2 linked regions of the Homo sapiens genome follow. The protein of the gene in region 1 binds, or shares a complex with, the protein of each later gene. Each region holds a gene or a part of one and is shown in the gene's direction. Other genes may lie near its edges.

The links. Proteins that work in one complex are often made in the same cells at the same time.
Region 2: the proteins of BRD1 (region 1) and KAT7 are in contact, whole or in part, in a crystal structure (PDB 5GK9), measured with the Homo sapiens proteins. Residues at the interface, in XP_047297239.1 of Homo sapiens: Val40, Ile42, Glu43, Ile44, His49, Arg50, Ile51, Ser52, Ile53, Phe54, Asp55, Pro56, Leu57, Glu58, Ile59, Ile60, Leu61; in NP_008998.1 of Homo sapiens: Leu531, Phe534, Gly536, Lys537, Glu538, Ile539, Ser540, Ile541, Lys542, Pro552, Val553, Val556, Gln560, Leu565, Tyr567, Lys571, His572, Leu573, Val574, Leu575, Lys576.

Annotation. Positions count from the first base shown.
Region 1 is NC_000022.11:49,824,873-49,832,610, reverse strand, and holds the start of BRD1 (bromodomain-containing protein 1), read left to right. Parts: upstream 1-4,737; 5' UTR 4,738-5,114; intron 5,115-5,353; exon of another isoform or gene 5,354-5,373; intron 5,374-6,025; exon of another isoform or gene 6,026-7,738. UniProt on the Homo sapiens protein: Scaffold subunit of various histone acetyltransferase (HAT) complexes, such as the MOZ/MORF and HBO1 complexes, that acts as a regulator of hematopoiesis.
Region 2 is NC_000017.11:49,791,681-49,798,680, forward strand, and holds part of KAT7 (histone acetyltransferase KAT7), read left to right. Parts: intron 1-205; coding exon 206-353; intron 354-5,069; coding exon 5,070-5,246; intron 5,247-6,638; coding exon 6,639-6,878; intron 6,879-7,000. UniProt on the Homo sapiens protein: Catalytic subunit of histone acetyltransferase HBO1 complexes, which specifically mediate acetylation of histone H3 at 'Lys-14' (H3K14ac), thereby regulating various processes, such as gene transcription, protein ubiquitination, immune regulation, stem cell pluripotent and self-renewal maintenance and embryonic development.

The DNA of each region.
Region 1 (7,738 bases):
GCCGTGTTGGTGGTGGAATTCATTCATTTCTGTTGCTGTGTGCTATTCCATTGCGTGGATACACCTCACTTTGTCCATTTTACCGTCCTTTGATATTTAAGATTTCTCCCAGTATTTGCTATTAAAAACAGCGTTAAAATAAAAAAAAAAAAACACCAAAAACAGTGTTGCTCTGAACATTCATGCACATGCTTCCTGATGAACAAGTTTCTTTTTTTCTTTTCTTTTTTTTTTTTTTTTTTTAGATGGAGTCTTGCTCTGTTGCCCAGGCTGGAGTGCAGTGGCGCAATCTCTGCTCACTGCAAACTCTGCCTCCTGGGTTCACACCATTCTCCTGCCTCAGCCTCCTGGCTAATTTTTTGTATTTTTAGTAGAGATGGGGTTTCACCGTGTTAGCCAGGATGGTCTCAATCTCCTGACCTCATGATCTGCCTGCCTCAGCCTCCCAAACTGCTGGGATTACAGGCGTGAGCCACGGCGCCCGGCCCTGATGAACAGGTTTCTTAGGCACACACCCAGGCACGGAATGCACCTAGGAATACAAATTGACTTAACCCTACAGCCGGGAATGGGTATGCACACTGGGGGAGCTTGCATCTTCTCAAAGTGGCCACAACAACTTCTCCCATACAGCATGCTTCTCTTAAAATGTGATGATAACACATGTCCCAAGAGGTGGGGTCTGTATTCTCCCTAACTCTTGAATCTGGACAGGCTTGTCCCTATGGCAGAAGTGATGCGTGTGACTTCAGAAGCTAGGATGTGAAAAGTGATACAGGTCCCACCTGCTTCTCTTGAGACCCTTGCTCCTGCAGCATGGCTACTATTCCATGAGGATGTTCCCAAGGCCCTCAGCCCAGAGCCTGGATCAAGGTCCCAGCCACGTGAGTGCACCATCTTGGAAGTGGCTCCTCCAGCCCCTAGTGGAGGTGCCCCAGATAAGGATGCAGGAAGTAGTCTAGTTGTACCTGCTGAATCCTGCCCAAATAGCAGATGTGTGAACAAAAGGAATGACTGCTGTTTTGAGCTACAAAGTTTTGGGGGTGGTTTGTTTTGCAGCAAGAGGTAACTGATAAACATGTCCACTTTCACTGGGTAACGCCTTATGACCAAGATATTTACCAAATAATTGTCCCACTCGACATTCTGGCCAGCAGGGTATTGCTCTGCCATCTTGCCATCGCTGAGTATTGCCACATATGAACGCTGGTGCCTATTTGGTGTGTATTTTGTTTGCATTTCCAAATTTACTAGTAAGATGATTGGCCTTTCCATGTTCTCTGCAAGAAGCCTGATTATGACATGGGTTTCTTTGTTGATTTGGGTTTTGTGCATCATTTTGTTGGCTTGTTTGTCTCTTTCTAATGGATCTGAAGGGGTTCTCTATATATTCTAAATACTAATCATCTGCAAGGTGTACATATCTTTTAGTTTTTCATTCTTCAGTCTCTTTATGGTGCCTTTTGAGGAACAAACATATGATAATTTCCATCCTTTCATTTACGAAATGGAGTCTTGCTCTGTCACTCAGGCTGGAGTGCAGTGGGGCAATCTTGCCTCACTGCAACCTCAGCCTCCTGGGTTCAAGTGATTCTCCTGCCTCAGCCTCCTGAGTAGCTGGGATTACAGGCACGTGCCCCCATGCCTGGCTAATTTTTCTATTTTTAGTAGAGATGGGGTTTCACTATGTTGGTCAGGTCTTGAACTCCTGACCTCAGGTGATGCACCTGCCTCGGTCTCCCAAAGTGTTGGGATTACAGGCATGAGCCACTGTGCCTGGCCCCATCGTTTTATTTTTCATCTGTTATTTTTCAGGTGAATTTCTTGTAAGAATATTTCACCATATTTATATTCCATTCAGAGAGGTTGTCTTTTAATAGATGCATTTAATCCAATCACATTCCTCTGATTACTCAAATGTTTGAACTTAGTTCTGCCAACTCATATTATGTTCTGTATTTATCATGATTTTATCTTTTACTCATTCCTGTTTTTTTTTTGTTGTTGCTGCTGTCGTTTTTCATTTCGCTTTTTCCTCAGCTGTTCTGAAAGTGGTAAATTCTTTTTCCACCATTCTTGTGGAAACTTTCTGATAGTTAAAACTTTTTTTTTTTGTTTTTTTGAGATGGAGTTTTGCTCTTGTTGCCCAGGCTGGAGTGCAATGGCACCATCTCAGCTCACTGTAACCTCCACCTCCCAGTTTCAACCAATTCTCCTGCCTCAGCCTCCCAAGTAGTGGGATTACAGGCATGCGCCGCCACGCCCGGCTAATTTTTTTTTTTTTGTATTTTTAGTAGAGATGGGGTTTCTCCATGTTGATCAGGCTGGTCTTGAACTCCCGACCTCAGGTAGTCTGCCCGCCTCGGCCTCCCAAAGTGCTGGGATTACAGGTGTGAGCCACCATGCCCAGCTAAAATTTTTAACCTTTTTTTCTATCGATTCTAAAATCCTCGAACCAAACAATACAAGAGCTTTCGTGCACTTTCACTTCCTTCTGCGCCCCGCCTTACCATGTGTCATGTTGAGTTCATCCGGGATTTCTCTCAGGTTGATTTTCTTTTAACGGACCAGACTGATTTACTTGCTGGCATCCACGTCTTACTCTTGGGTCCACTTTTCACTTTGTTAAGGTATTTCTTCTAGTACTTTTACAGACTGCGTGTGTGGTAAATGTGGATGTTAACCGGCGGTGAAGACACCTTTATTTTGCTGTCTCACTGGAACGCTAGTTTCACTGTGTATGAGTTACGGTTCAATTCTCTTAGTATTTTGGCAACCCCTCCTCTGTAGGATGAGTCTGAATTCTAAAGAAGATCCTCTCCGAAGGCCTTCCTGAGTATCCCTGTGACATGCCTACGTTCGAGGCTTTGTTCTTCACTCCTCTGAGCATCACCTGCATTGTCTGAGAGGCCACTGTCCCCGTCTCCTCTTCTGTGAAGGGTTTCGTGTCTTTTCATCTTCTCTTTCATGAGACTGTGTCTTACTTTTGCTCTGTGTTGTGGAGAACCTCCAGCTTGGTTTCCATCTGGCTTCCCTGAGGTGGAGGAGAGAAGCGTTCGGGCTCAGCTTGCTTGTTTGGCCACAGGTAAACAGACATCTGTAGAATGGAGGTGACACGAAGCTCCTGGGTCTGGTGCAGAAGAGGTCAGGGCCCCAGTGGCCTGTACCCCCTAAGCTCAAGGGTGTGTCTGCAGGGAGTCCTAGATCAGGACTGACCACTGGGGCCTTGGCTGGGGTCCTACCTGCCCTTGAGTCGTCACGTCACAACCCACACACTGGGTGCCATGGGCATGAGGACTGGCCAGGAAAAGGCCTGTGGGGCCTGGCCCCTATCAGGGACACTTGGGCGAACAAGGCCACCCCACTCCCAATAAGGTGTTTGGTGCAGTGCCCCGAGCAGTGGGGCCGCTCGGCTGCCCCCGTGGGGACGGTCTGTCCCAGGGTGGACAGCTGCTCTTCCTGAGGGGCCTGCCTGGATGCCACAGGCTGTGCTGCTGGAACCCAGGGATTCCACAGCACCATCGTCCTGATCACAAATTCTCAAGGAAACCAAGGAGCTCCTGCCTCACCTTAAAACATTTGGGATTTAATCTTGGAGTGAAAATTGTTATGACCCCACTGAATTTTAGAGTTTACACAAAAGGCCAAAGTGAAGGCAGAGACTCAGGCCTCTCAACTCCCACCCGCAGGGGCCTTTTCTTGCAACCTTAAAGGGCATCTGCTTCACGCCGGCCTCGGCAGGGCCCTCACACTGGCAGGACTACTTGCACACCGGGCCTGACACTCACTAGGGGAGGCTCCCCAGCCCGGCTGCACCACCCACCTCTACCTAGTCGCGTGTCCCGGCCAGTGCCCTTTCCACTCCCACCCAGTGCCCCCGCAGGGCCCCCTCTGTCCTCTTAGGGACCTCCACTCCCGGACCAATAGCCTCCTGCCTCAGGGCCCCCCACTCATGGGCCAATCGCCCCCTGCCTCAGGCCTCCCCCCACTCGTGGGCCAATCGCCCCCTGCCTCAGGCCCCCACCAACTCGTGGGCCAATCGCCCCCTGCCTCAGGGCCCCCCATTCCTGGGCCAATGGCCTTCTGCCTCAGGGACTCCCACTCTCAGCTGGTCCCCCCCGCCTCAGGGACCCCCACTCCTGGCCGTTCCCCCGTCAGGGCCCCCGACTGGCGGCTGCTCCCCCATCCTGCCTCGGGGCCCCCCACTCCCGGGCCAATGTCCTTCTGCCTCAGGTACCCCCACTCCCGGCCCGTCCCCCCGCCTGTGGGCCCCCCACTCCAGGCCGGTGGTAGCCCCTGCCTCAGAGCCGCCCACTCCTGGGCCATCTCCTGCCTCAGCGACCCCACTCCTGGGCCAATGCCCTTCTGCCTCAGGGACCCCCACTCCCAGCCGGTACCCCCCTGCTTCAAAGCCCCCGACTCCCGGCTGCTCCCCACCTGCCTCGGGGCCCCCCACTCCTAGGCCTACGTCCCCCTGCCTCAGGGCCCCTCATTCTCCATCCTCCTGACCCCCTCAGGGACCTTCTGGCCCGGTCCTCCCTAACTCAAGGGCCCCCACTCTCCATCCTCCCGACCCCCCACTCCCAGCCCGGTCCCCGCCGCCTCAGGGCCCCCTTTGGCCCCCGCTCCTCGCGGCGCCCCCTCCCCCGCGCGCGGCCGAGGCAGCGGAGTCCGCGCGTCATGGCGGCGGCGGGCGGGGCGCGTCTCGCACGCAGCGCGCCGGGCGGAGCGCTCGCCGCATTGTTTGCTTCGCTGGGGAGCGAGCGAGCGACCCGGCCCTGGAGTCCGAGCCAGCCCCGCGTCCCGCGCCCGCCGCCCGCCGCCCGCTCCCGCGCCCGCGCCCGCGCCCGCCGGCCGGGCCCCCCGAGCCGGGCCTCCAGCTGGGCCCCGAGCCCGAGCCCGCGCCGCGCGAGCCGCTGCCCGAGAGTCCGCGGCCGCCGCTGCCGGGCCCGGAGCCGCCGCGGCCGAGAGGGGCCCGCGCCCAGGAGCGGCGGCGGGGCCCGGCCTGCGCGGCCGTTGGCGGAGGAGCCGCGGGCGCCATTAGCACCGCCTCGGCCGCGCCGGCCCCCGCGCCCGCCCGCTTGCCGGGCTCCCGCGGCCGCGGCGCCCCGAAGGTGAGTGGGCGGGGGCCTGGCCGGGGAGGCCTCCCCGCCGCCTCGCGGGCCGCCCGGCCGCCGCCGCCGCCTCGGCCCGGCCTCTCGGGGTTGTGGTGCCGACGCCATGTTTGGCGGCGGCGGCGGCGGCGGCGGCTCCGCATTGTCTGCGGGCCGGGAGCCCGGGATGCCGGGGAGGCCGGGCGGGGAGACCGGGGAGGTCGGGCCGGGCGGCCGGGGAGACGGGCGGGAAGACGGGGAGGCCGGGCGGGGAGACCGGGTAGGTCAGGCCGGGGAGTCGAGGGAGGCCGAGTCGGGCTGTGGGTCTCGGCGGCCTGGGCCGCGGGCGCCTGCCCGGAGTCCGCGCTCGAGTCGGGTCGGGCCTCGGGCAGCCGCCGAGCCGGCCGGGCCGCCCCTTATGTAACAGACAGGCCCGCCGAGCTCTGCCAAGACGGGAACTCCCTGTGAGCAGGGACGCGCCCCGAGATCGCCCAGGAGCCGCGCGGCCTGCGGCGGCCGGGCTTGGGAACCGGCACCGCGGCCTCCCCGGGCGTTTGCAGGGAGACGCCTCGCGACGAACGCGAGGCTTCCCCGGGCCTTTTAAAACGAGTGACACGATTGAGGCGCAGTTCACGGGAAACGCGGCTCTTGTGAGCGGACGCGGGAGTTCTGAGAATCCGTAGCAGCGGGACCCCCTGCCCCGCGGGGTGCGGCCCCGTCTCCCCAGAAAGCGCGGCCGCCCGTGTCTGTTTTTGAGGGTCTGTCGCCAGGTGGTTGTGTAGTTAGTGGAATCGGCGGATGTTTTTGTTTGGCCGGCCCAGCGCCGTCCCGAGTGCTGTGTGCTGCACACAACTTCGCACAGCTCAGCGGCCGCGGCCCCTGTGGCCTTGACCGAGAGGCCCGGCGCGTGGCCGGCTTCTCCCTGGGCGGGCGGTGGGAAGATGGAAGCGGCCGTCTTGTGGGCAGCCTTCCCCGCCTGTGGCCCGCAGGGCTCTTCGATGTACTTAAGGGAATTATTCCTTGAGAAGCTACGTGTGTGCCCCCGCGGATCCCTCCCAGTGGAAATGCTTGTCCCAGTGGAAGGGCCAGGGACAGAACCGGCCCAGGGGGGAAGCGGTGAAGCAGAGGAGGTCGTGGGTCGCCCTGCCCTGCTGAGGGCCTACTTTCCCCGGGTCCCAGTTGCATGTTGAGGGTATGGAGCTGCTGTGGCCGTGAAGCCTTCGGTTCAGTTCTCCCCTTGTAGAAAGTGTTGCGATGAAGAGCTTCACGGCTCCCTGGGAGAGAGTGGGTTTCCAGGGGCTGCTTGTCGTTAGGGCGACTCAGGACTTTGCTGTCGAGGGGAAAATGACAGGTTCGTTTCTGATCTGGTGAGTAACCAACTGTTGCTTCTGCCCCACCTCAGTAATGACGCGTGTCGGCGTCCCGGGTGCACTAGGGTCGCTCTCTGCAGGCTGTGGTGTCACCTCTGCAGGGCTCACGGGGCCGGCTGGGGGGTGGCTGTGCTGACAGCTCCCCAGGAATCCAGGGTTGAGTGGGTACCTGGAGGCCCTGGAGATGCAGGGGGTCTGAGGTTTGGCCGACCACATTTTCTCTCCTATTCCTTTCTGTAGGTAATTGCAATCTAGTTTCAACATACAATGAGGATTTCTGTCTGATACAGAGAAAGATACCCAGTGTCTGGAGGGTCTGTCTTAAGAAGTGCTCTTGAAGTCTGCTGGGATTTCCTTTCGGGACTCACAGAGGGAAGCCTGCTCCCTGAGGGCTTTTTCTCAGGCCCAATAGATCAGGGTAAGGCTGCTGTGGGTGCCCCTGATCCCCCTGGGCCCCGAGGCCAGGCGTCCCTGACGTGGCAGGGCTAGATGCAGAGTATGCCTTGGGCTTCAGCTGAGAATATTTGTTTTGCGAGTCAGTCACTGAAAAATCATTTTGCTTCCTGTCAGTGAAGTGTGGCGCTTTGGAGGGAGGCACTGCCCAGCAGGCGGTGGTCTTCACAGGAGGTGTCCACACACCAGGCACCCTGGGGACAGCTAGGAATAGACGCAGTCCGTGGTGTTGGGACAGCAGAGGCCTCTGCCACGAGGAGCTGGAGGTATGGGAGGCAGCTCACTGGTTTTGCCTACCTCTGGAAAAGCAGATTCTCCTAAGCCTCTGTGGCCAAGTCTTCAGGCACCTGAGCCAGCGCTGGCGACCCTCCTGGTGAGGGTCTCTGCAAGCAGCGAGGGGTTCCTGGGGGTCACCCCTCGCTGTGGAGCCTGAGTGGAGCGTCTGCCTTCACGTGTGCCGGGGAGAACAGAGATTCCCTTTGGCGTCATGCATGTGTCTGGATTCTCTCAGAAAGGAGGAGGACGTGGAAGGAGGAGGACGTGGCCAGCACCATGGTCTCAGTGGGGCTTGAGGAGTGCCCCTGAGGGGAAGGGGCAGGTTGGCTCAGCCTGTGGTGGTTTCCATGGTGGTCACTGCCAAGGCTCTGCAGAAGCGGGGTTGGGGCCTCCCAGGGGCCAAGACTGTCCCCTCAGACCAGTACAGGGCTCCCCTGTTGGTCCCCTGTGCCGTGTTGTGCGTGTGGAGGGCCTGTCTATAGAGGATGGACAGGCTGTGATCTGTCTCCTACCCCTGGCCCCAGCAGGAATGCTGCAAGGACTGTG
Region 2 (7,000 bases), on another chromosome or scaffold:
TTCCCTATTTGTAGGTTGTTCCATTTAAGTGTTCTAAATAAAGTGAAGTTGCCTGAGGGGGTGGGAGGATGAGAAATGCTTGTGGAATCCTTATTTAGGTTTGAACTTGGGGTTTTCAGTGTCACAGCTTGTTTTATTTTCAATGTTAATGCAAACTCTCAGACCAAATGCTTCTGTGCTAATATCTGGATCTATGGTATTACAGAGGAATGCAGGCAGTAGTTCAGATGGAACCGAAGATTCCGATTTTTCTACAGATCTCGAGCACACAGACAGTTCAGAAAGTGATGGCACATCCCGACGATCTGCTCGAGTCACCCGCTCCTCAGCCAGGCTAAGCCAGAGTTCTCAAGGTAAAAAAACCTTCATTTTTCCTTACCACTCCTCACATCTGGCTGACTGGCCCATCACATTATTTTCCTAGTTAATGTGGAAACTGGCCCCTTGGCTTGGTGTAGATGACAGTGCACCAGATGATTGGTAAAATGTAGAGTGAATGCAGAGTTGTCAGGTCTTTAACAATGCCTCTGTGGGGGGCTACTATCCAATCTGTAGACCCAAAGGAACTGCGGATGGTATAATGGATAGAGACACACGTATGTCTTGAGTCATTTGTTTGTTTGTTTGTTTGTTTTTTTAGATCGCAGTGTCTCCATCAGTAAAATTGGAATGTTATCCCTTCACTTTCTGTTTGAATGTTTGAGGCTTAGGGACTTGAAGTCCAGATGGTATCTGATTTATGGTGGCTTGATTTAATTTTTTTTTTTAACTTTACAGTGGTGCTAAAACAATATGCATTCAGTGGAAACTTTTAGAATTTTGAATTTCGGTCTTTTCCTGGGCCAGTGATATGTGGGCCAAATATTTTCTCATGTTGCTGAGTGGTGGCAATGAGCCATAATAACTCCAGTCAGTGAGCCGTAACTCCCAGTCAGCCATTTGATCATGAGGGTAAACCAGTACTCTTCAGTGTACTGTCTTTAATAAATTATATGCAATATTCAACACTTTATTAAAAATAGGCTTTGTGTTAGATGATTGTGCACAATTGTAGGCTAATGTAAGTGGTTTGAGCCTATTTAAAGTAGGCTAGGCTAAGCTATGATGCTCGGTAGGTTAGGTGTATAGCGGTTTTTTTTATTTTCTGGAGACAGGGTCTTGTGCTCTGTTGCACAGGTTGGAGTGCAGTGGTGTGATCTTGGCTCACTGCAGCCTTGACCTCCTTGGCTCAAGTGATCCTCCCACCTCAGCCTCCTGAGTAGCTGGGACTACAGGTGCACGCCACCATGCCTAGCTAGTTTTCTTTGTTTTTTGTAGAGATGAGGTCTTATTATGTTGTCTAGGCTGGTCTCAAACTCCTGGACTCAAGCAGTCCTTCCACCTTGGCCTCCCAAAGTACTGGGGTTATAGATGTGAGCCACCATGTTCAGCCTGTAAATGCATTTTTAACTTATAATACTTTCAACTTATGATAGTTTTATTGAGACTTAACCCCATTACAAGTCAAGGAGCATCTGTAGTCTCTTGGACTTACTCTTGGCAGAGGCCCACTTCTAAAACCATGTTTAACTCTGGAATGTAATCCAATAAACACTTGATAGATATTAATAGTTGTACCAAAATATCAGTGTGGAAATAATGGAATTTTGCTTTGGTAATAAGGAATTGAGAATCTTGGGGTTGGAAGGTAGTTTGAACTATCTCTAGTGCATTTAGGCATCTGGGGTTAGATTTGGAGGGTACCCTTGACCCTCCTGGCTCTGCTCTGGTATTCCCTGAGGAGGAAAGAAGGTTGCAGCTAATACAGAAAGCCGATGATCAACAGGTGATAATAGATGAAGGGAAAAAAACTTTAACATGTTTTGAGCACTTCAACAGTGTTGCTTTGGTTAATTTTTTTTTTTTTTTTTTTTGAGATGGAGTCTAGCTCTGTTGCCAGGCGGAGTGCAGTGGCATGATCTTGGTTCACTGCAACTTCCGCCTCCTGGGTTCAAGCAATTCTCCTGCCTCAGCCTGCAAGTAGCTGGGACTACAGGTGCACGCCACCGTGCCCAGCTAATTTTTGTATTTTTAGTAGAGATGGGGTTTCACCATGTTGGCCAGGATAGTCTCAATCTCTTGACCTCATGGTCTGCCTGCCTTGGCCTCCCAAAGTGCTTGGATTATAGGCATGAGCCACCGCGCCCTGCTGCTTTGGTCACTTTTATATGAGTATGTTGCACAATGAGAGAAAAACCATCAGTTTTTCAAGCAAGAAAGTGGGAATATCCTCTTTAACAACTGTTCCTAACTTTATTTTTGAATTTAGGATTTCAGCTAAAGTATTGCTATTGTCTCTTGATTTCTTAAGCTTTAAATTTTTACCACAATGAGACTATGGATAAATAGCTACTATAACTCAAGCAGTATGTTATGTACTAGGAACCATGATAGAAAAATCATAGTTCCTGTCCTCAAAGATCTTACAGTTCAGTGCAAGATACAGATATGAAAATTGATCATGGGAATACATTATGGCAAGGGCTGTGAGAGGGGTTTGCATAGAGTACTACATAAGCCCAGAGGTGGGACAGCCAACTTAGGGCAGCACTCCCACAATGATGAAGTCTTTTTTGTTGTTGTTGAGACAGAATCTCGCTCTGTCGCCCAGGCTGGAGTGCAGTGGCATGATCTTGGTTCACTGCAGCTTCCGCCTCCTGGGTTCAAGGAATTCTCCTGCCCCAGCCTCCCAAGTAGCTGGGATTACAGGCGAGCACCACCATACCTGGCTATTTTTTGTATTTTTAGTAGAGACAGGGTTTCACCGTGTTGTCCAGGCTTGTCTTAAACTCCTGATCTCAAGTGATCTGCCCGCCTCGGCCTCCCAAAGTGCTGGGATTACAGGCGTGAGCCGCCGTGCCCAGCTGCACACTGAGATGTCTTAAAGGCTCTGATAGGAATTTACAAGTTGAAAGATGGGAATATGTTATTCTCGGCAGATGGAACAGCATATGCTAAGGAAAAGACATAATGTTTGTAGGAAGTATAATTGACCATGCCCTAGACACCTGAAAACTAAATATTCAAAACAGCTAGGAAATGCGTAAGCACTGAGTCTCTTTCTGGTTATCATACCTCATGACCACAGAGTTGCACAACTCCAGGGGTACCATTTACAATGTCAGCAATGTAAGGTGGTCCTCCCTAGAGCACAAGGTAGATCATATTGTGAAAGGAGGCCCCTTGGAGATGTACAAATGGATAACCTTGCTCTGTGCTAACTTTTCTCACCCGAAAGTTTGGAAATTTTCAGTTTTCTTCTTTAGAGAATCTATAAGATTTCTTCAGATTTTTTTTTTTTTTAAATATACGTTGGGGGGTGCAGCCGTGAGAGAGTGAGGCTGACACCGCGCCCTGGCCTGTGCATCCCGCCCTCTGAAAAAAAAATTAATTAATTAAAATAAAATATACTTTAGAGAGGATTTTGACTGTTCTCACCACAAAGAAATGACAAGTGTTTGAGATATGGATATGCTAATTATTTTGATTTCATCATTACACAATGTATACGTCTATCAGAACATCACAGTATACTCTATAAATATGTACACTTACATGTCAATTAAAACAAAACTAAGACTGCTAGGGGCTTACACGGAGGGAATTGAGCCAGCATCACCACGATGGTGTTGTTGGAGAGTGAGCAGTTCCTGACGGAGCTGACCAGACTTTTCCAGAAGTGCTGGACATCGGGCAGCATCTATATCACCTTGAAGAAGTATGGTGGTGGAACCAAACCCGTTCCAAAGAAAGGTTCTGTGGAGGGCTTTGAGCCCTCAGACAAGTGTCTGTTAAGAGCTATCGATGGGAAAAAGAAGGTCAGCACTGTGGTGAGCTCCAACCAAGTGAATAAGTTTCAGATGGCTTATTCAAACCTACCGAGTGCTAACATGGATGGGCTGAAGAAAAGGGACAAAAAGAACAAAAGTAAGAAGACCAAAGCAGCAGCACAGTAAAGGGCACAAATTTCCTGCTTTCACCAATTAACCACTGAATTGTTATTTTTTCCTTTGGTTTTTACTTTTGGCCACATAGCTAGGTTTCTGGTTCCCCTACACTAGGTGTTTTCACATAAGATGTAGGGTCCTTTTGCAAAGAATAGTTGCAATGTTTATAGGGCAGTTGTGGTAAGAATCTAGTTTATTTTACATTTGGCTAATTGGTCTGTACTGCATGGTTATATACTCCTGGATTATAGATTAAAAGTCTCTGTAGTCATCTCTGTGAAGAGCAAGCTATGATTAAACATGTCTCTTTATAAAAAAAAAAGCACAAAAAAACTAAAACATATCTACATATATTTTTTAAAAATGCTTTAATTTCAGCTTTGAATTTTCCTTCATTTCCTTTGTCCTCAGGTTGGAGATATAAAAGGGCTGCTGAGTGCCTCAGAATAGGTTTTTCTATCCAAAAAACTTAAAATGCTGCATTCCTGCTTTACCTTTATGAATCTATTATGACAGTGCCAGAGAGGGTAATAAGAAAGAAAAAAAAATCGGCCCCTTAAGAAAGGAAATCGTTTTGTTTGTTGTTATATCTTTGGTAATAGAATATCTGTTTTATGGTGGGTTAGAAAAAGGGAAGAATGAGAGGATGCAGTTAATATTTATAAAGCACTCTGTACCACGGATCATGTTAAGTGCTTCACATGCATTATCTCACCTATTCCTCACCACAGTGTTATGAGGAATGTGCTACTAGTATTTTCCTTTTCAATAGGTCAGGAAACAGGCTTGGAGAAAATAACTTGCCCAAGATGCCACAGCTAGTTGGTATGGTGGAGTGGAGTTGAATCAAGTTCAGTCCTAATTCCAGAACCTAAACTTATTAATGCTGTACTACATTACATCTGTATACCTGAGCTAGGCTCTTTTGCTTATATTTTATTTAATTAAATAGATATTTTAAGGATTTGTTGGATTTTGTGAAATATGAAGAGGAGGAGGAGCGATATTCTGATAAATTATATGGATAGGAAGTAAAACAGATTTCCATCTTTTTTCTTTATTTTCTTTTAAAATTGGGATCAGATTCCAGTCCTGTTCGAAATCTGCAGTCTTTTGGCACTGAGGAGCCTGCTTACTCTACCAGAAGAGTGACCCGTAGTCAGCAGCAGCCTACCCCAGTGACACCGAAAAAATACCCTCTTCGGCAGACTCGTTCATCTGGTTCAGAAACTGAGCAAGTGGTTGATTTTTCAGATAGAGGTGAGTGGGTATGGTATGACTTAGACCTATTACAGAGCATCTGGGTGAAATTCTTTTTAAGGAGGGCTTGGGGCCACTGCAGGTAGATGCCTAATACTTCAGCTAGATGAATGCTGTTTGCTTGCTTCCTTTCTTATGTCTTTTTTTTTTTTTTTGAGACGGAGTCTCGCTCTATTGCCCAGGCTGGAGTGCAGTGGTGCAATCTTGGCTCACTGCAAGCTCTGCCTCCCGGGTTCACGCCATTCTCCTGCCTCAGCCTCCTGAGTAGCTGGGACTACAGGCGCCTGCCACCACGCCAGGCTAATTTTTTGTATTTTTAGTAGAGACGGGGTTTCACTGTGTTAGTCAGGATGGTCTCGATCTCCTGACCTCGTGATCCACCCGCCTCAGCCTCCCAAAGTGCTGGGATTACAGGTATAAGCCACCATGCCCAGCCTCCTTTCTTATACATTGCTGAGGACAGTTTGATATCAGAATATTCTCAAGGTCCAGAGTAGCTGGAGTATATTAAATCGTACCTGTAATAGGAAAAAGAGACTGGGCCCTTCTTAACCACATTTGAAAAGGGCTTGAAGCAGACTTTTCTTATAGCCATACTTCTCAGTCCATTTATCTCCAAATTTCTTAATGCAGAGGTCACAGACTGGTGAACTACTTCTAGCTGTCCGCATGGTTGGTTGGTTTGCTTGCACAGTGTTTAAAATTTTTTAAATTTGTTGCTAGTATTTGAAAACACAATGATTTCATATAAAAACCTGGATTAATAGTTTATTTTAAACAATGAAAAGATCTGGGAACACTGGGCGGCCAATCACCCATAGTAATAATTGGCTGGAGTTGAATAGTAGTTGTCCCCTTTAGATGGACAATGAGCTGTCTCTTTGGCCTTGCTGAGCCCCTGTAGGCATTTGGTTTGCAATTCCTGATTTAGAGTCTGGAATTTCAAGATTGAATTGTTAGACTACAAACAGGCTCACTCAAGACTCTAAGTCCATTCACATCTTACACCAAGCCTGTTCAGTGTCATCCAGAAAGATAATCACTGTCACTTATCTTCTGTCCTGTGTATCTCCTGGAAGGGAAGTGGGATAGTAATGTTTTAAAAACGTATTTCCATCTAGTTTTGATTATCCATGATTAGCAACTCAGGAGAAATACAGATAGGTGTAATAGATGAAGTACAAATTTAATTTTAATCAGAATTTAAAGTTGCACAAAATGGATGGTGTAGAAGTGCCTCTTCATTTTCCATTTAGCCATCTAGCAGATGAATAGCTGAAAGTTACTGGTTAAATCATAGAAAAAGAACCTGGGAAGCCCATAAACTCTGAATAGTAAACTTCTAAATAAATGAACTCCACTCATAACTTCTACCAATTGCTTTTGCTTTAGAAACTAAAAATACAGCTGATCATGATGAGTCACCGCCTCGAACTCCAACTGGAAATGCGCCTTCTTCTGAGTCTGACATAGACATCTCCAGCCCCAATGTATCTCACGATGAGAGCATTGCCAAGGACATGTCCCTGAAGGACTCAGGCAGTGATCTCTCTCATCGCCCCAAGCGCCGTCGCTTCCATGAAAGCTACAACTTCAATATGAAGTGTCCTACACCAGGCTGTAACTCTCTAGGTCAGTGTGCCCTAGCTTCATGACATCCTTTGTTCTGTGGTTCTCTCTCCCAGGATCATCCAGAAATGTTTTGTGTTCTGTTGGGATTTAGCTTCTTAGGCTCTTCAGTGGTCATGTGCTGA